Homo sapiens: one gene and its partners. The protein of the gene in region 6 purifies or fractionates together with the protein of the main gene of each other region. This does not show direct contact. Each region holds a gene or a part of one and is shown on either strand. Other genes may lie near its edges.

The links.
Region 1: the proteins of SLC33A1 (region 6) and EIF3J purify together in Homo sapiens (affinity purification with mass spectrometry; one large-scale study listed by BioGRID and IntAct). This does not show direct contact.
Region 2: the proteins of SLC33A1 (region 6) and CLCN7 purify together in Homo sapiens (affinity purification with mass spectrometry; one large-scale study listed by BioGRID and IntAct). This does not show direct contact.
Region 3: the proteins of SLC33A1 (region 6) and MAP4 purify together in Homo sapiens (affinity purification with mass spectrometry; one large-scale study listed by BioGRID and IntAct). This does not show direct contact.
Region 4: the proteins of SLC33A1 (region 6) and NXPE3 purify together in Homo sapiens (affinity purification with mass spectrometry; one large-scale study listed by BioGRID and IntAct). This does not show direct contact.
Region 5: the proteins of SLC33A1 (region 6) and CAP1 purify together in Homo sapiens (affinity purification with mass spectrometry; one large-scale study listed by BioGRID and IntAct). This does not show direct contact.
Region 7: the proteins of SLC33A1 (region 6) and HSP90B1 purify together in Homo sapiens (affinity purification with mass spectrometry; one large-scale study listed by BioGRID and IntAct). This does not show direct contact.

The regions. Positions count from the first base shown.
Region 1 is NC_000015.10:44,554,147-44,557,646, reverse strand, and holds part of EIF3J (eukaryotic translation initiation factor 3 subunit J), read right to left. Parts: intron 3,095-3,500; coding exon 2,980-3,094; intron 159-2,979; coding exon 1-158. UniProt on the Homo sapiens protein: Component of the eukaryotic translation initiation factor 3 (eIF-3) complex, which is required for several steps in the initiation of protein synthesis.
Region 2 is NC_000016.10:1,465,029-1,468,528, forward strand, and holds part of CLCN7 (H(+)/Cl(-) exchange transporter 7), read right to left. Parts: intron 311-3,500; coding exon 239-310; intron 1-238. UniProt on the Homo sapiens protein: Slowly voltage-gated channel mediating the exchange of chloride ions against protons. Functions as antiporter and contributes to the acidification of the lysosome lumen and may be involved in maintaining lysosomal pH.
Region 3 is NC_000003.12:47,855,917-47,859,416, forward strand, and holds part of MAP4 (microtubule-associated protein 4), read right to left. Parts: intron 1,597-3,500; coding exon 1,515-1,596; intron 1-1,514. UniProt on the Homo sapiens protein: Non-neuronal microtubule-associated protein. Promotes microtubule assembly.
Region 4 is NC_000003.12:101,817,211-101,820,710, reverse strand, and holds part of NXPE3 (NXPE family member 3 isoform 1 precursor), read right to left. Parts: intron 1-3,500.
Region 5 is NC_000001.11:40,064,729-40,068,228, reverse strand, and holds part of CAP1 (adenylyl cyclase-associated protein 1), read right to left. Parts: intron 2,015-3,500; coding exon 1,909-2,014; intron 690-1,908; coding exon 512-689; intron 1-511. UniProt on the Homo sapiens protein: Directly regulates filament dynamics and has been implicated in a number of complex developmental and morphological processes, including mRNA localization and the establishment of cell polarity.
Region 6 is NC_000003.12:155,823,428-155,826,927, reverse strand, and holds part of SLC33A1 (acetyl-coenzyme A transporter 1), read left to right. Parts: 3' UTR 1-3,500. UniProt on the Homo sapiens protein: Acetyl-CoA transporter that mediates active acetyl-CoA import through the endoplasmic reticulum (ER) membrane into the ER lumen where specific ER-based acetyl-CoA:lysine acetyltransferases are responsible for the acetylation of ER-based protein substrates, such as BACE1.
Region 7 is NC_000012.12:103,940,410-103,943,909, reverse strand, and holds part of HSP90B1 (endoplasmin precursor), read right to left. Parts: intron 2,501-3,500; coding exon 2,363-2,500; intron 2,282-2,362; coding exon 2,204-2,281; intron 2,079-2,203; coding exon 2,013-2,078; intron 1,384-2,012; coding exon 1,114-1,383; intron 837-1,113; coding exon 591-836; intron 173-590; coding exon 36-172; intron 1-35.

The DNA of each region.
Region 1 (3,500 bases), on a different chromosome or scaffold from region 6:
AATACACACATCTCGAACTAAGACTTCCAAAAAACTGGCATAATATAGTGACTTTTCATATTGTGTAATTTTATCTTTTAGTAACTTTCCAAACTCTGTAAAGTCATCTCTTGAAGATGGGTTCATAGCATCTATTCCATAAACTGCATTATTAACACCTGTAGGAGAAAAGAAGCACTGAAAAGTATCAGGAGGTTAGGATTTTTAAAAATGAAACCTTACAAAGCCAATAGCTATCTGAATAACCCTGTCGTTTCATTCTAAAGCAGGGGCTCTGAACCTGGAGCCACTGGAGTCACTGGATAGAATGGCTGGGTGAGGGGGGAGGGGGGTTACAAACTTAAATCAGAAAAAAAGTTACATCTTTATTAACCTCTAATTCAGCATTTCCTTCAGTTTCAATTGACTGGCAACAAATCACAGTGGTATTAGCAAAACTTGACTTACCAGGAGAGATCACACTCTCCTGCCATTACAGATATCTTACAATATTAATATTGTTCAGTCATAATTACTCTCAAATGACATTATTTGACGTGCCACTACACCTGATTTAATGCATCGATAAGGAAGCATATAATTCTGTATCACAAATTTGTCATTTTAGTATTTTGACATCTATTTATATATAACAGGTTTTCTTTATAAATAAGTATTTTATTCATTTAAAAACAATATATCAAGGCCAGACACAGTGGCTCACACCTGTAATCCCAGTGTTTTGTTTGGGAGGCCTAAGAGGAAGGATCGCTTGAGGCCAGGAGTTTGAGACCAGCCTGGGCAACACAGCAAGACCTCATCTCTACAAAAAAAATTTTTTTAATTAGCCAGGTGTGGCCAGACGCAGTGGCTAACACCCGTAATCCCAACACTTTGGGAGGCCTAGGCAGGCCGATCACCTGAGGTCAGGAGTCCGAGAGACAAGCCTGGCCAACATGGTGAAACCCTGTCTCTACCAAAAATACAAAAATTAGCCAGGCATGGTGGTGGCATGTATCTGTAATCCCAGCTACTTGGGAGGCTGAGGCACGAGAATCACTTCAACCCAGGAGGCGGAGGTTACAATGAGCCGAGACTGCACCACTGCACTCCAGCCTGGGTGACAGAGTGAGACTCTGTCTCAAAAAAATAAATAAAATTAGCCAGGTGTGGTGATATTCACCTGTAGCCCTCGCTACCCGGGAGGCTGAGGTGGGAGGATTGCTTGAGCCCAGGAGTTTGAGGCTGCAGTGAGCTATGGTCATGCCACTGCATTCCAGACTGGATGACTGAGCAAGAACCTTTCTCTAAAAACAAAACACAACATATTACATTACAAAAGGGATACTCTGTTCTTGTCCAAGAACACCCCCACAGTAAAGTGGGGAGAGAGGGAACAAAAAGAATAAGAAACAAAGATGGATCCTGTGAAAGTATTTGTCTAACTCCAGAAGCTAAGCGGGGGTAAACATGTTAAATCCCAATAGAAGAAATCTGGCCTAGGCTGTGCATGGTGGCTCATGCCTGTAATCCCAGCACTTTAGGAGGCCAAGGCGGCAGATCACTTGAGCTCAGGACTTCAACAACAGCCTGGGCAGCATGGTGAAACCTTGTATCTACAAAAAAAGCCCCAAAAAACAAAAATTACCCAGGCGTGGTGGCATGCGCCTGTAGTCCCAGCTACTTGGGAGGCTAAGGTGGGAGGATGGCTTGAGCCCAGAGGCAGAGGTTGCAGTGAGCCGATCTCAGCCACTGTCCTCTAGCCTGGATGACAGAGCCAGACCCTGTTAGAAAAAAAAAAATCTGGCCTAGATGAGTTTTACACTAAGATAAGTATGCTTCTGTATCCTCCATGTCAAGTAGATTAGTTATTAACAATATTACATGTGGTATTTTAGTATGAGAAACACAACAGTAAAATCCTATTAACAATGACTATATGAATGCATGTTTTTACCTTTTAGTCTATAACAGGTGTCCCATGCTAGGCTTTATGCACACTTCATAAACCTGCCTCTTTAATAAACACATGGGCAGCTTTTACCATCCTAGGAAGACACATATTAACAGCCAAGAGCTCTCTATAATTAGATGAGTGCAGTTAAGACCTGCCAAGCATACAATGGTGCACAGGAGCATTCACATCAACTCCTGGTATTTGTACAGATCCACTGACAGATAAGGTCATACTTCCTCATGAAAAGGAAAACAATCACTACAGTCAGCCTGTTGATCTGTTTCAGAGTAGAGAAAGTATGAAAGTGGGGGAGGGGTATCAGAATAACTAGAGCTTTCCTTCTTGGTTATAAATTTCAGTGATTTAACTGTTTCAACATGATCTTCTACTCTGAAAAGTACTCAACAGGTAACGATAACTTGGTTAAATGAAGCGAGGGCTTTGACTATTTCTCTAGCCATGTCTCTTACTCTGGAACACTCTGAATTTATCTATTTATAGGATCCTGCACTTTTATCTCACGCACTAACCACAGCTGCAGACACCGCACAAAGAAATGGAGGCCCTCTAAAGATAGGGCATGGTAAGGGCAAAGAAGGGTTGCAGAAGGAAATGACACTGAGCACAAGAAGGCACAGCAAAAGCTGCATGCCTCTCACCTGGAGCAACATCCTACTGTCTAAGTCTTAAGACAACAGGACAGCCCTACAGTCCATTTCAAAGCTACAGACCTCACATTTCATGCAAATTTCATCCAGCTGATAAAAATATTCTATGCAGTAGTGTACTTCATCTGAGTCTACTCCTTTTTGCCCTTCTTGCATTGCTATAAATGACTTATCTTAATAATCTTTTACTCAAAACAATTATTCAAAAATCTGAACATGTAATGAAATCTCAAATATACACAGAGATTAAAAACTGCTTTCTAATATCTACATTAGCCAGTATGTTTCTTTTAAGAAAAGGAGATGTTTTCTGAACTTTCTGGGTCTTCACCTGTAACAGTTTAATACTGTATTGCAATCATAATCCCGTCTTACCAAAAGTTTCCTTTGCTAATTCGAGGTCTGACTCTTCCTGTAATTTCTTTAGCCGCAGTTTATCTGCTAATTGTTCTTCTGGTGTTAGCACTTTAGGTTCTTCGGGTTCTTCTAACTAAAATGAGACAAAAGTTTTTAAAAAGCACAGGGATTATGATGCACTCAGTACCTTTCTGTATTGTACGAATTCTTAAATAAGCGTATATAATAACAAATAAAAGTGAACACTGGTAATTACTGTTTCAGGCATTCTTCTAAACACTTTAGTTTTTTTTTTTTTTTTTTTTTTTTTAGACAGAGCCTCACTCTGCCACCAAGGCTGGAGCACAGTGGCATGATCTTCGCTCATTGTAACCTCTGCCTCCTGGGTTCAAGTGATTCTCATACCTCAGCCTCCCGAGTAGCTGGGATTACAGGCGTGCACCACCACATCCAGCTAATTTTTGTAGTTTTAGCAGTGATGGGGTTTCACCATGTTGGCCAGGCCGGTCTTGAACTCCTGGCCTCAAGTGATCCGCCCA
Region 2 (3,500 bases), on a different chromosome or scaffold from region 6:
GCTGTCACTGCTGTCCTGACCGGCTTCCTGCGCCCTGCACTCCTCCGTCTGAGAGCACTTCTGCCCAGCTGCCTCTGCTCACTTGGCGTCAGGGACCATGTCCCCCCAAGGAAATCTTCCCTGAACCCCGGCCCTGGGGCCCCACTATCTCCCTGCCGCTCGGCCCGTGCCCATCCCTGTCACCCTCTGCTAAGATGCAGCTAGCTCTGCGGGAGGACGGGGAACACCCCCAACTCACCGGGTCCAAAAGTTCATCATCCAGCTCCACGCTGCTCATATGTCCGACTCGGAAAAGCGCAGAACGTGGTGACTAAAAGCAGAAGAGAAATCATGAGGGCGCTCAGGCGTCGCACGCTCTGCTCCGTGGATTCTCACTCCCGCCGCCGCACCCTGGCCTCGCCTGACCCTGCCCGGGAGCTCAGGAATGGGCTAGGCCAGGCCTGCCTGCTGGGTGGGGGCAGCAGGGCTGGGACGGGCCTCCCTGGGCCCTGGAAGCAGAACTGATCCGGCTGCCCCTCGGCCTGTCAGCGACACGTCCAGCCCGAGTCCAGGGCGCAAGCTCCCTGCTCTAGACTGAAAGCGAGGCACCTGCCACCCACCAGGAAAGAAGGGCTGGACAACACGCCGCCCCCAATGCAGTGCCCGCCACAGCACCCTGGGCCATCCTGCCCAACCCTGCTCCCGAGGCCCTGCTCAGCCACCTGCCACCTCCACAGAGTCACCTCCACTGCAGCCTCTCTGGGTCTTGAGACACAAACGGCTCCACAGTGTTCACGCTGCCCTCCCCACAGGACGCCCAGCTGTCAGGCAGAGCTGGGTGGGGTCTCAGCCACCTAAGGCTTTGCGGCCGCCCCAGCTCAGGGCAGGGGCAGGGCAGCGGGCCCTGGGTGGCGTGGTGCAGATGTGACTTACGGAGCTCCCACCCCAGTCTCCGGCTCCTTACTAGAGCCAAGGCGCTGAGGCCAGGCTAGGAGGAGCCAAGACCTCAGCCTCCTTTCCCCAAAGAGATCCTTTGGAGACGACTCCAATTTCCACTATCTCCTGAATCTTTAGCAACATCTGGGGACATGAAGGGAAGAAGGGCTGCCTTCCAGGTGGAGGGACCGCATGCGCAGGGCGCCCGCCATCTGCATCAGAGAGCCCGTGCGCCTGTCAGGAAAGTGTTGGCGGAGGAGTCCAGCGGCTGGTACCGGCCGTGGGAAGACCAACGAGGCTGCCGCCCGCCTTCCCTGGGAGCAGCCCTCCCGGCCCCCAACGCCGTCCCCTCCTCATCCCCCCATCTCTCCCTCCACCTTCCTCAGGCTCGGCCTCCCGCACCAGGTTTCAGCAGGGCCTGGAAGTGCTTCTTGGTGATAGAACGGCAGGTGATGGCGCCAGGAGCCCACAGGGCCGAGGTGGGGACGGGGAGACGTGCAGGAACGGCCTGCACTGGGGCCCAGTTTTCCCTCAACCTCCACCTATCCACGGGGATCACGATTACCACACACAGGCAAGGACACAGAAGCAGAGAAGGAAGGTTTGGGATCTGAGGTCACTGCGAGCCAGGGGTGGGGGTCCTGCTTTCTCTGGAGTGCTCACCCCTGAAGGAGACGGGCTCCCCAAACCGCCATCCCAGAAACTGCCTTCAGAACCAGACCTTCCCGGCGGGGTACAGTGGCTCATGCCTGTAATCCCAGCACTTTCAGAGGCTGAGGCGGGCAAATCACTTGAGGCCAGGAGTTCGAGACCAGCTGGGCCAACATGGCGAAACCCCATCTCTACTAAAAATACAAAAAGTAGGCGGGCTACTTGGGAGGCTAAGGCGGGAGAATCGCTTGAAGCCGGGAGGTGGAGTCTGCAGTGAGCTGAGATCGCACCACTGCACTCCAGCCTAGGTAACAGCAAGACTCTGTCTCAAAAAAAAAAAAAAAAAAAAAAAAAAAAAAAGAACCTGACCTTCCAGCCCACTGCCCTCCAGGGACCCCTTCCCCAACCATCGTCCTGTTACCAGCCACCGTCGCCCTTGCTGTACACCCCCCGTGTTGATGACCCGGTAAGTGGCCCTGGCAGGGGAAGGAACCTGGGCACGTGCCACTGGCCCTTGGCAGACACCAGTCAGAGCCTCCTCCTCTCCCCAGGCAAAGAGCACTCTCAGGCCATCCCCATCAAAAGCCAGGAGCAGAGGCCAGACAGACAGACAGACAGACTCGCAGGTGTCTGCCGTGGCATCTCCACGCCCAGGGGAGAGTGTGGGAGGGGCTAGAGTGCACAGGTCCTGCTGGACACAACCCTGAGTCACAGGGCGCCTGCCCCTCCTCTTCCCCCAGCCTTGCCACATGCCAGTGGCTCTCCCTGAGCCCTCAGTCACAGGCGAAACTCACAGCTTGAGTCTCCTGCCACACGGGCTGACGGTGGGAGGAGGAAGGTGCCACGGTCCAGGCATGATGGAAGCAGTGGCCTGGCCAGCTGCCCACTCCCTCTTGCTCACACTCACATCAAAGCCCCTGGACTCCAGGTCTCACCACCAGAAAACAGCCCTGGGACCAGCGCTGGGCCTCTGACCCCCACCTCCCAGGTGGACAGGTGCCCCGATGCCCCAAACAGAGACCACGGAACCCAAAAGACCCATTTCACCATGAGGAAGGACCCCACGTCCAAACAGGCACCCTGTGGGACACACCCTGCCCAGAGGGCCACCCTCTCCATCACTCAAGATGTCAGCACTTCTCTCTAACGCCACTCAAGGCCTGCCGTGCTTCTCAGGCTATTCCTTGCTGGAAATAACGGATCATTCTGGCCGGACGTGGTGGCTCACGCCTGTAATCCCAGCACTTTGGGAGGCTCAGGCAGGAGGATCGCTTGAGCCCAGGAGTTCAAAGCCAACCTGGACAACGTAGTGAGACCCTGTCTCTACAAAAAATCAAAATCAGCAAGGCATGGTGGCGTGTACCTGTGGCCCAAACTACTCAGGAGGCTGAGGCAAGAGGATCGCTTGAGCCTGGGAAGTCGAGGCTACAGTGAGCTATGGTTGCACCACTGCGCTCCAGCCTGGGCAACACGGCAAGACCCTATCTCTAAAATTAAAAAAAAAAACCCAAACAAAACGAAAACAGCCACAGTCACATGTCCTGGGCGCCAGGCCTGGGAGGCCTTGAGGAGGGCCACCGTCTACACCACGACAGCACTGTCCCACAGCAGCAGGCAGAGCCGCACATGCATTCAGGCCAAGGTGAAGGCTGCCGGTGCAGTATGTGACCAGCGGGCCACCCCCACCGCCGCCGCCTTGGCAGATCCGAGAGGGGTGAGGGGTGAGGGGTTGCCCCCCAGCAGGGCATCAGCTGCCCCTGCCCGGAGTGAAAGGATGGGGCTCCGGCGCCTTGCCTTCCCAGCATCTCTTTCCTTAACTCTGCCAGGACTTTGAGAAGGTGGCTTTCGTAATGGAAGAACACGACGTTTACTTCAAGTTCAGCAATGCATTCCGTGCGGTTACTTTCTTTTTTAAATGCAAGCTCTTATAAATT
Region 3 (3,500 bases), about 110 Mb from region 6:
CTAGCAAAAAGAAGGAATAATAAAAAGGACAGAGTGGCCCCGAGGCTGTGCGCTGAGGAAGGAAAGACATGGACCAAGGCAGGCCTGGGATCTAGTGACCTCAGGCTAGGACGGGGAGGGAAAGTGGTCTGAACTCACGCCCAGGGTTCAGAGCTCACTGGCCAGAGTGTGCCCATGAGACCAAGGGGAAGGGTGCGGGACGAGCTGCCCTCAATGAGTACCCAGCCCCTCCCGCGCCCAGCAGCGTGGTTTCCCTTGGGCCCCTTCTCCTGTTCTTCCATCTCCTCTCAGCTCACATGGCAGACCTCCACGCACAGCTTCTGGCCGAGGTCTCCCGGTGTCCCATATTGGGAAACCCAGCCCTGGCAAAAACTAGACCCTAAGTGACTCAGTGTCATTAGAGAAGGAAGTATCTGATAGGAGATTTCCCAGATAAAAGGGGAAAAAAATGGTTAGTTAAGGACAGAACTGTTTTGATCTTTCTAAATAGAACACATTCTAAACTGGATCATGCTCTTCGCTGAGAGGGAAAGGGAGTTTTTTTTTTTTCTTTTTGGAGACAGAATTTCGCTCTGTTGCTCAGGCTGGAGTGCAGTGCCATACTCTCGCCTCACTGTAGTCTCTGCCTCCTGGGTTCAAGCAATTCTCCAAAGGCATGCACCACCACACCTAGCTAGTTTTTGTATTTTTAGTAGAGACAGGGTTTCACCATGTTGGCCAGGCTGTTCTCAAACTCCTGACCTCAAGTGATCCGCCCGCTTTGGCCTCCCAAAGTGCTGGGATTACAGGCATGAGACACCGCGCCCGCCCTGAGGGAAGAGAGTTTTGCCTTCACCTTATCTGGCCTGTGGTGGCTAGCCTTCTGGGATACCAGGTCTGCCAGCCAGTGTGCCTGCTGCTACAGCAGTCCTACTCACAAATCTGCTGTAGACCCAGGAACTAGGACACGAGGCTGCTAGGGGACTACCCAAGGCAAGAGCCCAGCCTCCGCACAGCGACTTCCACAGGGGCGCTGGGCCAACCATGTTGCTGGAAGGAAACTGCATTAGTGCAAGTTGCTGAACGCCTCCCATTCTCCTGCCAGGGCTAGCGGCTGATGCTTCACTGGTTGGGAGCACCCTTTGCTCCTGCATCTGATAGGTGGGACCTGAACACTGCCCTCTATACAGCTCCTTCAGCAGTAGCTTCTGTAATCCTCGTTTAGAGCCAATCCAGGTTCTCAGCTCAGAGTGCACCACTTCCCCAGGCCTAGCTCAATAGTTCCACACACACAGTAGGTACTCAAGAGAATGCCTGTGCAGATGGCTGCTGTAAGAAACTGCTCCTCCTCCACTTAGAGGTTAGCACCCGAACTCCTGCTCCCTGACAGAATGAGGACTGTGGTGTCCTGGGTAGTCTTCATGGGATGCTAAAGGCACAGAGATGAAACCCTTGCCAGCCAGCTGGCTGCCCAGCTGACCCATGGCAGGACGACATACCCTGGAGACCCAGTGGGCAAGGGAGGCACCACTCACCAGGCTTGTGCTTGATGTTAGCCTTAGACCCACACTTGGAGGAGACCTTAGAGATGTCCACTTTCTTGTTCTGAATCTGAACCTGAAGAGAAGGACACAAAAGACTCATTCAGAGAGAAGGTATACTGTCAGAGCCAACCCCATGCTACCTTTTAAATCTTCTCCATGTTCAGGGTTTCTCGCTCCCTCTGTAAGCTGCTATCTCAGTCTGGTCAAAGACAAGGTCATCTCCCTAAGTACTTAAAAGAGCCCTCGACCCACCCTGGCCCTGCTCTTCACTTCCTTTTTTTTTTTTAAAGATGGAGTCTCGCTCTGTTGCCCAGGCTGGAGTACAGTGGTACGATCTCAGCTCGCTATAACCTCCGCCTCCTGGGGTCAAGCAATTCTCCTGCCTCAGCCTCCCGAGTAGCTGGGATTACAGGCGTGTACCACCACATCTGGCTAATTTTTTGTATTTTTAGTAGAGACAAGGTTTCACCATGTTGGCCAGGCTGGTCTCGAACTCCTGACCTCAGGAGATCCACCCACCTCAGATTTCCAGAGCCCAGAGTGTTGGGATTACAGGCGTGAGCCACCACGCCTGGCCTTCACTTTTTTTTTTTTTTTTTTTAAGACAGAGTTTCACTCTTGTTGCCCAGGCTGGCACGATCTTGGCTCACCCCAGCCTCCATCTCCCGGGTTCAAGTGATTCTTCTGCCTCAGCCTCTGGAGTAGCTAGGATTACAGGCATGCGCCACCACGCCCAGCTAATTTTGTATTTTTAGTAGAGACAGGGTTTCTCCATATTGGTCAGGCTGGTCTCGAACTCCTGACCTCAGGTGATCCGCCTGCCTCAGGATCCCAAAGTGCTGGAATTACAGGTGTGAGCCACCACGCCCGGCCACCAGCCTTCACTTCTAACCCCACCTCCAGCCAGACCAAACCACCATTTCCACACCCCACAGGTCTTTCTGTGCAGACCCTGTCCATGCATGCTCCAGACAGCTCTTCTGTCATTTCACCAGGTCCAAACACCAGCACCAAGGCTCCCATGAAATATCCCCTTTATTCCATCTCAAATCCTTACCTATCAACTCCTTGCCCAGAGAACCTGGAATAACATATTTACTTCTAGTCCTTTTCAATGCATTTTCCCCTTGGGAGAGGTGAGGGGGTGGTGTGTGTGTGTGTGTGTGTGTGTGTGTGCGCGTTGTGTGTGTGTGTGTGTGTGTGTGTAATCATAGTATTCCTGCTTAATCCATGTTATAACAATTTTCCCAGCCAGGTGCAGTGGGTCATGCCTGTAATCCCAGCACTTTGGGAGGCTGAGGCAGGCAGATCACCTGTGGCTAGGAGTTTGAGACCAGCCTGGCCAGCACAGTGAAACTCTATCTCTACTAAAAATGCAAAAATTTGCATTTAAAGGTGGTGCACCTTGGCTGGGCACGGTGGCTCACGCCTGTAATCCCAGCACTTTGGGAGGCTAAGGCGGGCGGATCACGAGGTCAGGAGATCGAGACCATCCTGGCTAACATGGTGAAACCCCGTCTCTACTAAAAATACAAAAAAAATTAGCCGGGCGTGGTGGCAGGTGCCTGTAGTCCCAGTACTCGGGAGGCTGAGGCAGGAGAATGGCATGAACTCGGGAGGCAGAGCTTGCAGTGAGCCGAGATCGTGCCACTGCACTCCAGCCTGGGCAACAGAAAGAGACTCCGCCTCAAAAAAAAAAGGTGGTGCATCTTTAAGTCTATAGCCATGCATGCCCTCTGGGTTGCTGGATGGGGATTCCAGCATTCCTGTGAGCGGCCCCGCTGTCCTCTGGTAGGTACTGTGGGAGAGCCTGACTTTCCAACACATCAACTCCATGCAGTGTTGCACCATTCTGGTGGGTTTCACCACAAGCTGTTAAATGGTGAGCTACCTTCTTGAGCCCTGTTTTCCCTTCTTTGGTGTCAGGAAATATAGTCTTCACCATGTTTCCAGAGGACAGATATAATGCCACCAGTA
Region 4 (3,500 bases), about 54 Mb from region 6:
TTATCTCAATTTTATGGCTGCATAGTATTCCATGGTACATATGTACCACATTTTCTTTATCCAGTCTGTCACTGATGGGCATTTAGGTTGATTCCACGTCTTTGCTGTCGTGAACAGCGCTGCAATGAACATTTCCTTGCATGTGTCTTTATGGCAGAATGATTTATATTCCTCTGGGTATATACCCAGTAATGGGATTGCTGGGTCGAATGGTAGTTCTGCTTTTAGCTCTTTGAGGAATCACCATACTGCTTTCCACAATGATCGAATTAATTTACACTTCCACCAACAGTGTATAATTGTTACCTTTTCTCTGCAACCTTGCCAGTATCTGTTGTTTTTTGGCTTTTTAATAATAGCCATTCTGATTGGTGTGAGAACCACAATTTCATTGTGGTTTTGATTTGCATTGCTCTAATGATCAGTGATATTGAGCTTTTTCTTCATATGTTTGTTGGCTGTATGTATGTCTTCTTTTGAGAAGTGTCTGTTTATGATAATTTAAATTATAAAAATCAAATTGGCATTTACATTTTATTCTCCTAACAGATAAATATTATTTCTCTCAAGACATGGGCTTTAACTTCTGTTTTATGAGCACATATCAGCAACCAAATACTTCTTTGGGGAAATTCCGTCATTTGTAACAACATGGATGAAACTAGAGGACATTATGCTAAGTGAAATAAGCCACACACAGATGTCTTTGATGTGGAACCTCATGCAATATTTGCCTTATACTGACTTATATGTGGAACTTAAAAAAGTTGAAGTAGAGAGTAGAATAGTGGTTACCAGAGGGCTGCTAGACGGGTAGGTGCAATGGGGAAATATTAATCAAGGTCTCAGAAGGAAAATGTTTTAGACATCTATTGCACAACATGGTAACCATAGTAAATAATCATGTATCATATATTTCAAAACTGCTAAAAGAAGAGATTTTAAATATTCTCACTATAAAAAAGTAAGTATGTGAGGTGATGGATATGTTAATTTACTTGATGTACTAATTCCACAATGTATATATATAAAATATCACATTGTACCCCATAAATATACTTATCTGTTGATTAAAAATGAATGTTTTTAAAAATAAAATTAAGGCAAGTTCAAATGTAATTTTGAAAAATGAAAACAAACACCTCTTTTTGCAATAAGCAAAAGAAAGAAGCAACCCTGTTTCTTTTGACTTTCAATTTTACCCTGTAGATGAAAAATCATGTTAATGTCCTACAGAAAAACTTCCATCTCTATCATGAGAATAACACAGATAGCATCGCAAATTAAAAATTCCCTTTTCTCCCTCTAAGTTGTATTTCAAGGTCCAGTTGCCTGGAGACATTCTGAAGGTCCCAGGAATCAGTGGCAGTCCTTGTTATTCCTAAAAAACTCTGTATAATTCATCACTTAGTACGTGCACCCATGAGGAAAGAAGATGTGTCTCATATCCCTAAATATTCCCTTAAGTGCCTTAAGTAAATGTTGACAATCCAATTTAACTAATATTTCCTTAGCACCTACTTAGTGCCCACTACTATAGGTGCTACAAGCCAGCAATGCTCAGATGGATAAGCTATATAGTCCTTGCCCTCAGTGAGTTCACGGTCAATTTTGAAAAAGTAACATCAGAATATAATTGTCCTATAGGATGGGCAAGGTGGCTCATGCCCATAATCCCAGCACTTTGGGAGGGCAAAGCAAGCAGCTCACTTGAGGTCAGAAGTTTGAGACCAGCCTGGCCAACACGGTGAAACCCGTCTCTACTAAAAATACAAAAATTAGCCAGGCATGGTGTCAGGTGCCTGTAATCTCAGCTACTTGGGAGGCTGAGGCAGGAGAATCACATGAACCTGCGAGGCAGAGGTTTTAGTGAGTAGAGATCACACCACTGCACTCCAGCCTGGGTGACAGAGTGAGACACCATCTCAAAAAAAAAAAAAAAAAAAAAAAAAAAAAATATATATATATATATATATATATATATATATATATATAAATTGTCATATATTCTTAAGGGTTAAAGTAGGTTTCATTTTTTTCTCCTTGCATTTCCAGGTTTCTCTTCTAGATTTTCCTACCTAACTACTACTTAGCATTTAGCCCCATTTTAACTGAATAAAATCTCAAGCTACCACTTTCTTTTGATTAGATCAAGCACTGACACAGGCTTTATTTTTATCAGGTGAAGATATGTCTGTAAAGTATATGGTGGGACGTGATGAAAACAGTCAGTGTGATCCTTGTCATCAAAGGAAATACCAAGCTACATCATTAGAATTTAAGAAGCAAGCAACTACAGACACCTAGGAAGGCCCTCACTGGTCAGCATCACATCAAACCTTGTCTAGCATCAAGCCATACAAAGTATTTCCCTTCTCCTAATGTACAAATTATACTTTATCAAACAAAGCTTAGTTATATCTGTTTCAATTTAAAAAACAAGCAAAACAAAAAGTGGAACTGACTTTACACTTTTGGGGACAATATCTACTTCCCCTTTCCTTCTAAAAATTAAATTTAAAACTAAGTTGAGGCCAGGTGTGAGCCATCAGCACTTTGGGAGGTTGAGGCGGGCGGACTGCTTGAGCATGAGAATTCGAGACTAGCCTGAGCAACACAGTGAGACCATGTCTCTACAAAAAATACAAAAAAATTAGCTGAGTGCAGTGGCTCACGCCTGTGGTCCCAAATGCTTGGGAGGCTGAGGTGGGAGGATCGCTTGAGCCCAGGAGGTTGAGGCTGCAGTGAGCCATGATCACACCATTGCACTCCAGCCTGGGTGAGAGAGTGAGACCTCATCTCAATCAATCAATCAATAAAACTAAGTTGACATAATAAATAAAAAGGCTGATAAAAACAATCACAAACAACTCACAACAAACCATCAGGCTTTACTTTATTAAAAGCCTTGCCCACACATGGCCATTAAAAACAGTTCCCACAAAACTATCAGCTCTCTAAATTGTAAGCAGGGTCTTTATTTCTGCTCCTTCAGGATCCCTCCTTCCTTACCTCATCCATACCCCTTCCAGAAAGAAAAGAATGCCCTTGTGAAGAAGGGGTGGGCCTCCAACCACTGGGGTTTTGTTCTGAGTCTGGAGAACAGCCCCAGAGCCAAGCAGAGAAATCAAGAAGCTAAGAATGCTGGAACTTACCCAGACTCCCTCAGGAGGAGCCAACTCCATCTCAGAGTCACACCAATGGTAGGCCCAATGGATGACACAGGGATGGCTTTGCTGCAAGGATGCAATATGGACTACCATAGGTCTGGCTGCTTCCTTCTACTCAAAGCTACTATAAACTTGGAGTTGGATGAGACAGAACTAGGGGAGAAACAACTGGAAATGCCCACCTCTATTTTACAACCCAGAATATTAGAAGGGAAAGACACCTGTGAAGTGACATGGTCCAGCTGTCTCATCTCACACATGGAGAAATGAAGCCCTAAAAAGTAAATGACTTGTCCAAAGTCATACAGCTCATCAGTGACATAAACCTCA
Region 5 (3,500 bases), on a different chromosome or scaffold from region 6:
CTTACAGTTGGATTTAGGTTGTTACACCATTTTTAGCTACTATGATCATAGATTCCTAGAAGTGGCTGGACAACTCAGACTTCCACCAGCTGTGTTAAGGGTATCTACTTTATACCAACATTAGGTCACTCTCATGCAAATTTTCCATGTAACCAGTATGCATCTTCTGAGGAAGTTAACTCCCTAACACAATGCCTTCCCAGAGGCCATGTGGTGCCACGGAAAAAGCTCTGGGGAAAACCGCCAGCTCTGTGCCTTGGCACAAGAGGGTCCTCTATATATGCTACCTAATATTAAGTCACTTTCCCATGGGGCAGATGGCTTCCTCCAACTGTGATCATCATTTTCAATTTCCATTTAAGCCAGCTTTGCCGTCCCTTAAAGGAACAGGACACACCAAACGAGTCTCCACCACACAAGCCAGGGTTGTAGTTTACAGACGGTTCTGGTTGGTGGGGTCTGGCCCACACAACTTGTTGTACCTACTGTTCGTGTCCAAGTGCTCACTCACCATGTGTAATGCTCTCCCCCTGATTAATCTGCGCGAACAGTGATGAGCGGGAAGCAGACTCATATGAGCATGAAATGGTAGAGACTGGGGGAGGAGGGGGGCATGGTGGAGGGGGAGGAGGACATGATCCGGCAGAGGGTCCAGATGGCAGTCCGCTCAGTTCTTTTGCCACAGGCCCCTGGAACAATAAGTGCAGGTAACATCATCATCCTCTCTGCTCCCCTCTGTACCATTCCCAGTAGTGCCCTACATGGGCCAGTGCACATGGGGTCCCCACCACAGCCTTTGAGGCAATGATTAATGTGTCCTACCCATACCCAACTTGGCTTTATGCCTTCTCACCCTTTCCCAAGGATCCAGCTCTCAGTTCTATTTCTTGACCATCACATTTTGCCTTTGAACTCACCTGATTCCAGCTCTAAAAACTATTTCCACAAATCTACTTGACATCTTCCTTAGTGTGTTACCAGTACCTCTGATTCAACAGATTCAAAACTGATTTCATCATTTCCTGCCGCTCCTCTCCCTGTACAATCATCCCCTTGTCCCTATTTCAGTGAAAGATGTTACTATCCAAGACTGACTATTCAATCTTCTTTGAGGATTCCAACTTCTTCGACCTTATCAAATCTCTATTATCTTGGTGCTATCTCCTGCAAATGTTTTTCTACTATCCCCCAAACACCATGACCACTTTCATAATCTGAGCATGAGTCCTTATCCCTAACCTATACACTGAGACTCTTTTAAAGACAAATTGAATCATTATCACTCCCTTGCTCAAATACCTCATCCCAAAGTCTCAGCCTACCTTCCTTTCCAGCCTTTTCTCCTAAAATTCTGATCATTTCCCCTTATTGAAGCCAGAGATGACCAATCTCTACATTTACTCTGCATGTATTTTGTTTAAGCTGTGCCTTTTGTAGTATCCCACTTCTCACTGCCCTATACTACTTTCAAGTCTCACAGAAGAGTATATACCTTCAAAGTACAATCTCTTCTAGTGAGAAGCACTCTTCTCTTCCTCATACTCTAGTCTGTATCTTTATTATAGCATTTGGCTTGGTGATTTGTATTGGGGTTTTGCATTCTTATTTTTAAGCTCCTTAAAGGCTGGGATAGTGTAACTCATTTGTGTGTGTCTCCTGCTCCAGCACCAATCACTGTCCCTAACATATTTATTGAAATTGAATACCACTGAATATTCCTTCTCCTCTGATCCTTGCTTCCTCTACTCTTTTTACCCTTTCTTTCTCCTCCTTTTCTTCCTCCCTTCCACTGAAAAAACTAGCATTCCCTCACAGACTTTGGTAGTGCTGAAGTCTAAGAAACCTGTGGACCCCATGCTGGAGAGAGAAAGTGGGAGGGAGGGAGGGAGGGAGGAAGGATTCACTAACCGTTTTGCTCCAGGCCAGTCCGGTGGTATGGAACTCCTTAATGTAAGCCTGCAGCTCTGTCCATATACTTAAATAAGCTTTGACCCAGTCTACATGCTTCTTATCCCTGGGAGGATTAAAGAAGAACTTGTCACAGGTGATCCGGGTACATAACAGTGGTGACTCCAGAACCCTTCTTTCCTATGGGCTCACATTCTCCTACCCGTGGTGTTTCTTAGGCTCCGCTCAATGGCAGCTTTTCTATCATCACCAGCTTCTATGTATATACAACCTAGTCTATTACCCTAATCAGACCAAACTCCACTAAGATAGAGACTCTGGATTCTATCTCTATCTCTCATAGCAATGTTTCTCAAACTGTTTTAAGTACCAAAACTTTTTTTTTTCTTTTGACCACTTGCTGCTTATTGAAACTTTTTTCAAAGTAGACCTTAAACACAATCTAATATGTAAAACTGATAAAAGCAGACATTCTGTGCATAAAACCATGGTAGAGAGGAGAGCTCTTAAGTATCACTGTGGAACTCTAAAGACTAAGAAACTTAACTGCCTTATGAGACAATGCCTTATGTCAAAATATGCCCACCCTGACCAAAAGCAAACTTAAAAACTTTCCCTTAGGGGGAAACAATCAGCCTTAAATTATAGAAATAGCATTGTGCCTACGGTTCAAGTCCCCTCTCTTCTTATGTATTAACTGGGAAGGTTATTTAGCCTAAGACCTAGTTTCCTCAACTGTAAAGTGATGGGATAATGGTGGGATATATCAAAACACTGTCATGCTTAATTCCATGTTGCTAGAAGGATAAGGAAGTGCCTGTTGTTCTGGGACACATTTCACTCACAGGAAGGTGTAGTTTTCCTTAAAAAGAGTAGTTAATAAATGTTTGTTGATTGATGAAGGATGGAAGAAAGGAAAGGCTTGTGTAGATATGCAACTTAATAAATTTTGCCTGCAATCATTCCAGCTCAAAACCAGCAATGGAGAAGTCAGAACTGGTAGACGTATGTGGTTAGACATGCAATGACTGCCCTACGTAATACCTGCATTGGCTAGGCAGCCTTACTCTCACTTTAACTGACTTCATGAAAAATTTCTATTAAGTCCTATTGAACCCTTTGCCATTGGGCCAGTAACAAATTCTCAACAAAGGAACAAAATCTTATATAAAGGGCATTAGTCCATGTTACTGCCAGCAAAACTTCCTAAACCCAGAAGGGTAAGGATCAGAAGACTAAAAGGGCCTCTACCAAAAAAGGAGAGAAAGCAGAAGTGGAAGCAGAAGTATTTCCTGCTTGCAAATGCAGCTGTGAGACAATATCTGTAAAGCTCTCCAGAAAGCAGCCCTGAGATAAAACCAGCACAGTGGCTAAGGGCAGCCCTCAGTAACTCCAAAGTGCTACTCCAGCAAGTAACCAAATGGGTTTATCCTTTACCCCTTGAGAAAAAGCTGAACTTGGCTGGGCACAGTGGCTCACACCTGTAATCCCAGCACTTTGGGGAGACCAAGGCAGGAGAATCATTAGAGACCAGCCTGGGAAACAGTGAGACCTCATCTCTACGAAAAAATTAGAAAATTAGCCAGGCATGG
Region 6 (3,500 bases):
TAAATCCTCCAAAAGTTAGACGAAACAAGATAGTACATTATGAGTCTTAATTTTATCATTGTGGAAAAATGTGTACTAACTCCTGATTTTGTTAATTTTATAACATAGGTTGAATTTTAGAGTGGGGTTTTTATAAGTAATGGAGGATAAAATGGGTGGGAGAAAATGGCACACAGCACCTGAAGAAAGATGGGGCAGTGACCTCTAGAACTCATGCATTGCCATTGGAAAGCCTGTGTTGGGCATCGATGTCAGATCCTGAAGAATCACCTGGAAAAAATCCCATCCTAGAGGCAAGGAGGCTACACCAAACCATACACTACAGTACTTTGTCACATGGTTGTCCATTATCATGTATTAGAGTCTAAATGATTACTTGAATAAAGAAAAAAAACCACTTAACTCTTACATATGAAATGTGTTTTGATTTTTAATTTTTGGATTAAGAAACTCAGATTGCCATAATAACCTTTTATTTCTTCCCGTGTATATTATTACAAATTATATATACTTTCAAACATAGTTTTTTTTTTTTTTAATTGAGACAGAGTCTCACTTTGTCACCCAGGCTGGAGTACAGTGGTGCAATCTCGGCTCACTGCAACCTCTGCCTCCTGGGTTCAAGTGATTCTCCTGCCCCAGTCCTCTGAGTAGCTGGGACTACAGGCGCACACCACCACACCCGGCTAATTTTTGTATTTTTAGTAGAGATGGGGTTTCACCATGTTGGCCAGGCTGGTCTTGAACTCCTGACCTCAAGTGATCCACCCGCCTCGGCCTCCCAAAGTGCTGGGATTACAGGCATGAGCCACTGCGCCCAGCCTTCAAACATAGTTTTAATGTCAGTACATCTTTAATGACTTGAAGTTTTAAAACATTTTAAGCCTTTAAGGTGAAAGCCATTTAATTAATTTGCTCTAGAAATAAGCACAAAAAATTATAGTTAATTTGAATACATGTATGTAATGCATGTCAAAATAACTTGTTAATAGCTATGTGCAACTGTGTTGCATACATTGATCACTAATGGCATTTAAAAATGATCTGCCTAAATCTGAGGATCTGTTTATTATAAATCAGTAGTACTAAAATATACCACCCTGTTTTTATGTTGTGGGTGTTTTTCTTGATTGATTGATCCTGATAAATTAAACAGTACCTTCAAGTATGGACTTTTAACTCCTCCAGTTAATGCATCATATGTTTACTGGCTAATATTAGATTGAACATTTTTCTCTCTATGTCAGTATCTCCATATGCACATTGGTTGCCGCATATATACATCTGAGTTTGAAAAGTTCTTCTGAGATTACCTAAAAGTAACACCACAGATTCCTTCCATTGTAAATACTTTATTTTATTTTATTATTATTTTTTAGAGACATGGTCTCACTTTTGCCCAAGCTGGAGTACAGTGATGCAATCATAGCTCACTGCAGCCTCAAATTCCTAGGCTCAAGGGATCTTCCTTAGGCTGGATGCTGTGGCTCACACCTGTAATCACAACACTTTAGGAGGCCAAGGCAGGAGGATCACTTGAGGTCAAGAGTTCAAGACCAACCTGGTCAATATAATAAGAACCTGTCTTTATGACTTCTTTTTTTTTTTTAATTATCCAGGCATGGTGGTACACACCAGTAGTCCCAGCTACTTGGGAAGCTTAGGCGGGAGGGTTACTTGAACCCAGGAGGTCAAGGCTTCAGTAAGCAGTGATTGTGGTACTACATTCCTGTCTGGGTGACAGAGTGAGACCCTGTCTCAACAACAAAAAAGGATCTTTCCACCTCAGCCTCTCTGGTAGCTAGGACTACAGGCACACAGCACTATGCCCAGCTAATAAAAAATAATAATTTTTTATAGAGGTGGGGTCCGCTATATTTTCCAGGCTAGTCCCAATCTCATAGCTTCAAGCAGTCGTCCAGCCTTGACCTCTCAAAATGCTGGGATTACAGGTGTAAGCCACCGTGCCCTGCCCATGATAAATATTTTAATTTTGCCTGATAAGTCATAAAAAGTTTATTCAACACCTTAAATAGATTTCTCAATTTTTTAAAAATATTAAACCTTTGAAATCGAAAGTAATTTTTGGATTTCACCCCTTTATTGCAAGGTTTTTGATGTCTGTGGGAAAAACCCCTGAATTGCTTGTGAAACTCTGGATATGTAATTTTTTTTCTTTTTCTGAACAGAGTAAAATCTTGGATGGGCCATGATCCAAAAATCATGGTTTTGAAAGTAGACCGTACTATAAGCCATAATCACAAATCTGAGGTAATAGTTGTGAAAGTGTTTAAAACATCCTGAAAACAATGTTGAAAAAAAAAATCTATGATAAAAACTATAAAATCTCTGCATATGTTATACTGTATTGAACTTGAAACTTTGAAGGAATTAGAGTAGATAAGACATTAATGGTAGAAGAGAAACCACAGGGGTGAATTATATCCTACAAAAGAGAAATCTTCATGATTTAACCTTTTTTTTCTGAGTGACTTTTATTTTGCCTTATTAACAGAAACCTGAGAAAGTATGTTGCTTTGTATTAAATGGTTGAGACCATTATTTGATATAAAAGCTGAAAATTTAATTTTTGTATTTTGGAGAATTCTGTGGTTCCAAGTAATTGAAAGAATGACTAAAGCTGTATGTCATAGACCCTGCTAAAATGAAATAACTTGTTGGGAACATTCCATGCAGATTTCCAAAATGTATTTTACCTTATTATTAGAGAAAGAAAATAAACTTTTAAAATAATCTGATAACTAGCATTCATATATTTAATAAGTATTTTGGTTACAGAAGGGAAGGTGATACTGTACATTGTAACTGCTGAGACTTTTTTTTAACCAATGTCTTTGGTAGATAGCGAGGCACAATTATTTTCTCTTAGGGAGGATTTTGAATACCTATTGCAGGCTGGGCATGGTGGCTCACGCCTGTAATCCCAACCCTTTGGGAGGCCGAGGTGGGTGGATCACTTGAGGTCAGGAGTTTGAGACCAGCCTGGCCAACATGGTGAAACGCCGTCTCTACTAAAAATACAAAAATTAGCCAGGCATAGGGTGGCACACGACTGTAATCCCAGCTACTAGGGAGGCTGAGGCAGGAGAATTGCTTGAGCCCGGGAGGCGGAGCTTGCAGTGAGTTGAGATTGCGCCACTACACTTCAGCCTGGGCGACAGAGCGAGACTCCGTTTCAAAAACAAACAAACAAAAACAAAACAAAAACACCTACTGCAGACCATGTTCTTTTTACTTTATTTTATTTTATTATTTTTTTGAGATGGAGTCTGGCTCTGTTGCCCAAGCTGCTCACTGCAACCTCCGCCTCCCGGGTTCAAGCGATTCTCCTGCCTCAGCCTTCCAAGTAGCTGGGACTACAGATGTGCACTACTACGCCCAGCTTATTTTTGTATTTTTGGTCGAGATGGGGTTTTGCCATGTTGGCCAGGCTGATCTCAAACTCCTGACCTTAGGTGATCTTCCCGCCTTGGCCTCCT
Region 7 (3,500 bases), on a different chromosome or scaffold from region 6:
AACGCCCTGGCAGGGACTTTCCCGAGGATGCTTACTTTGTAGAGATGTCCTTGCCCGTTTGGTACGCTTGTGCTTTCATGATTCTCTCCATGTTGCCAGACCATCCGTACTGGCTGGCCACCAAAGCACACGGAGATTCTGTCAGGCGCTGAGACACCACAGCCTTTTCAATCTTAGGGAAAGAAATCAAGTCATATAAATTAATATCAACAGGTAAGGTCATTGAGCAATTGTCTTTCAACTGTCTAAGACTTTATCACTTAAGATCATAAACACAGAAGCAGGTCATAAAAATAGCTTTTCTTAAGGTTTAGGAGAATTTGTAGGGGCACTTACTTGATAATCTGAATTTTCTAGTCAGAAGTTTAAATACCACCTTTTAAAAACATAAAATTTAATTTGTAACAAGTTATTAACAAAGCAGTATTGTCGAAAGTTTTAAGCTTTCTCCCAATAATTTAATTACATTAATTAAATTTTTACCATTCTAATGGTTACAAAGTAACCAGCTGCAGCTTAATTTGTTCACAAAATAACTTTCTCTTAAATGCTGATACTAATATTTCCACAATTTGTAATTTCCACAGTACCTTGTCCTTAAGGGCTTTATCTTTCATCCAATTCAGCAGAGGCTCAAATTCTTTCTCAACTGCTTCACGACTCTCCTTAGTTTTCTCACTTTCATCGAACTTCACTCCTTCCTTGGCAACATTCTGGAACCTCTTCCCATCAAATTCGGGAAGGGCCTGAATACAGTATTCATCCACAGGTTCTGTGAGGTAAATAACTTCATAGCCCTTTTTCAGAAGTCGCTCAACAAATGGAGAAGATTCAGCCTACAAAATTAAGAAGTCACAAAGTTTTCCAAGTCTGGCCCTGGTGTATTTGTTTATCCTAGCAGCTGCTATGTTTATACATTATTAAAAACTCCATTTTACAGGTGAAGAATTAAGAGGTTCAGAGAATATAAATGACCTTCCTGTCAGTGACTGACCAGGCCTTATAACTACTCCAGTTACACAATTAAGTTTTCCTTTTCTCCCCCTCAAGAGTTGGCTATAAATCCCTAGCTACCTTCCAGAATGGCTGACAACACTTATGAGTTCATCTCACCTCTTTTCTGCTGGACCCAGCCATGAAGTAGATTTTGTCTTGTTTTTCCTTCATTCTTTCCACATACTGGTCTAGGCTAGTAATGTCAGTTGGATGATGAGAAGACTGGAACCTAAGAAGTTTAGCAAGACGTGTTCGATTCGAGTGGTCTTCAATCACACCAAGCTTGATGTTGGTACCAAATTCTTTCCAAAAAGTATCATTGTATTTATCATCAGCAATCTTCTTGATCATGTCCAGCGTTTTACGAACAAGCTTCTTCCTAATCACCTAAACACAATGAAAGAATAACTGATTAGAGAAGTTAATCTCCAACTTTTGAGAATGTAAGGTACCCAGGCAGGAGTGTGAAAAACACAAAGACGATATCGTTATTGCCATTTATTGAGGGGCAGGAAATGGTGAAGCACTCCAATTCATTCAGATTGGGCTGAAATTCAGCTGTCCGTGCAAATAGCCACAAGATTGCCTTAATGTTTATATTCTAACCTTAGGACTCAGTGATACTCTCTCTCTAGCATCTAAATGAAGTGAACAAATATGCTACTTTCAAATACTTTTAAATTCAAAAACTAAAGAGTCTTCTAATTATGGAAGTATTGGAGGGGAAAGGTTTAATGAAAGGCTTGATAAAAAGGTGGCTATGTGTCTAGATGACAAAATGTTAATCCTGGACCTGTACAATTCTTTAATTTTTTTCTAGATGTTTGAAACTTCATTATTAAATGTTGGGAGAAAAAGAATCAGATTCTTAGGATCTGATAACTCCAGAAAGAAAGGAAATTCATCTGAAGAATCATGGACCAGACCCAAAATCTGGTTTTACTCCACAAATGGAGCCTGTCCTCTGAACCCCAATCAAACAGCAAAGTGGAGAGTTTCTTCCCAGAGACACTTACCTTAAGCAGTTTATGTTGCTGAAGAGTCTCGCGGGAAACATTCAAGGGGAGATCATCTGAGTCCACCTTCAGATGGCAAAAGAAAGTTCAGTGAGCAATAAAACCACTGGAAGAAAGCAAAGCCAAACAAACACTCTACACTGCCAGACCCCCACAACAATCACCCCTTCTCCCAAACTTCAGATACTTACCACACCCTTGACAAAATTGAGGTATTTAGGCATCATATCATGGAAGTCGTCTGTGATGAATACACGGCGCACATAGAGCTAAAGAGACCAAAAAAAAGTCACTTTCTGGAAATTAAACTTTCAAATTTTAAACGCAGCATGTACTACTTAAAAACTCACCTTAATGTAATCGCTCTTTTTAGATCCATATTCGTCAAACAGACCACGTGGAGCAGATGTGGGTACAAATAAAATTGATTTGAAGGTAACTTCCCCTTCAGCAGTAAAGTGAATATAAGCCATGGGGTCATCACTTTCCTGTGGAAAGTTGGTATCTTAGTCATTCAAACGACACAGGAGAAAAGCAGTGCAAGAACTAAGCAATGTACTATGTGGTACATATTCAGTTTAGCAATTAACTAACAAAAAATTTTCCTTTACTGGCGGGAGGTGGGGAAGAGAAAGAAAAGGGTGGGGGGAAGAGAAAGAAAAGGGTGGAGTGAAGAAATATCTAGAATTGCAATTCTAATTCACTAGACATGGTTGTTTTGATGATGATTGTCAATAACATTATTTCCTAAACTCTCAGAAGGAAGGATGAGTTTATACTTCTTACGTATGAGAGAAGTGAATAGGAAAACCACCACCCTGCCTAAATGACAAAATTACATACAACACTTCAGTGTGCCCTTGAACTACAGTAAGTACTCAAGAACATGTTTCTTCCATGGAACTTAGCTCTAAGAGTGGCTACAAAGATGTATGTAAATACCTGTAAAACAAAGTTGGAAATTCTCTTGATCTGCATTATCTATTACTGTATATGGCTGTTAAGCACTGAAATGTAGCTAGTTCAAATTCAGATGTGCTATTAAAGTGTAAAATACATTTTGAAGGCACAGTACAAATTTTAAAAAGGATATAAAATGTCTCATTATTAGTTTTTATATTGATTATGTTGAAATAATACTATTTGGGGTATGCTGGGTTAAATAAATTATACTATTAACATTTCATGGTTCCTTTTTTTGTATGGCTTCTAAAAAATTTCAAATCATGTGTGGCTCACATTAATTATATTTCTAATACAGCTGCTTTATATGAAGTAAGTTTATAGACACTAGGACTTTAGAGTTTATGGAAATAAAAGTGAAGGCAGAACCAACAGTGTTTTAAGAGTTGAAATTTAAAGGATATGGAATAGAGAAAAGAACAAATACAGACACAGAATATTAAGTTTTATTTAGCTATGGTTAAGTCCACTAGAGCATTCTACTGCTTGTACTAAATGCTGCTGGGGAAACATTAACTTTAAACA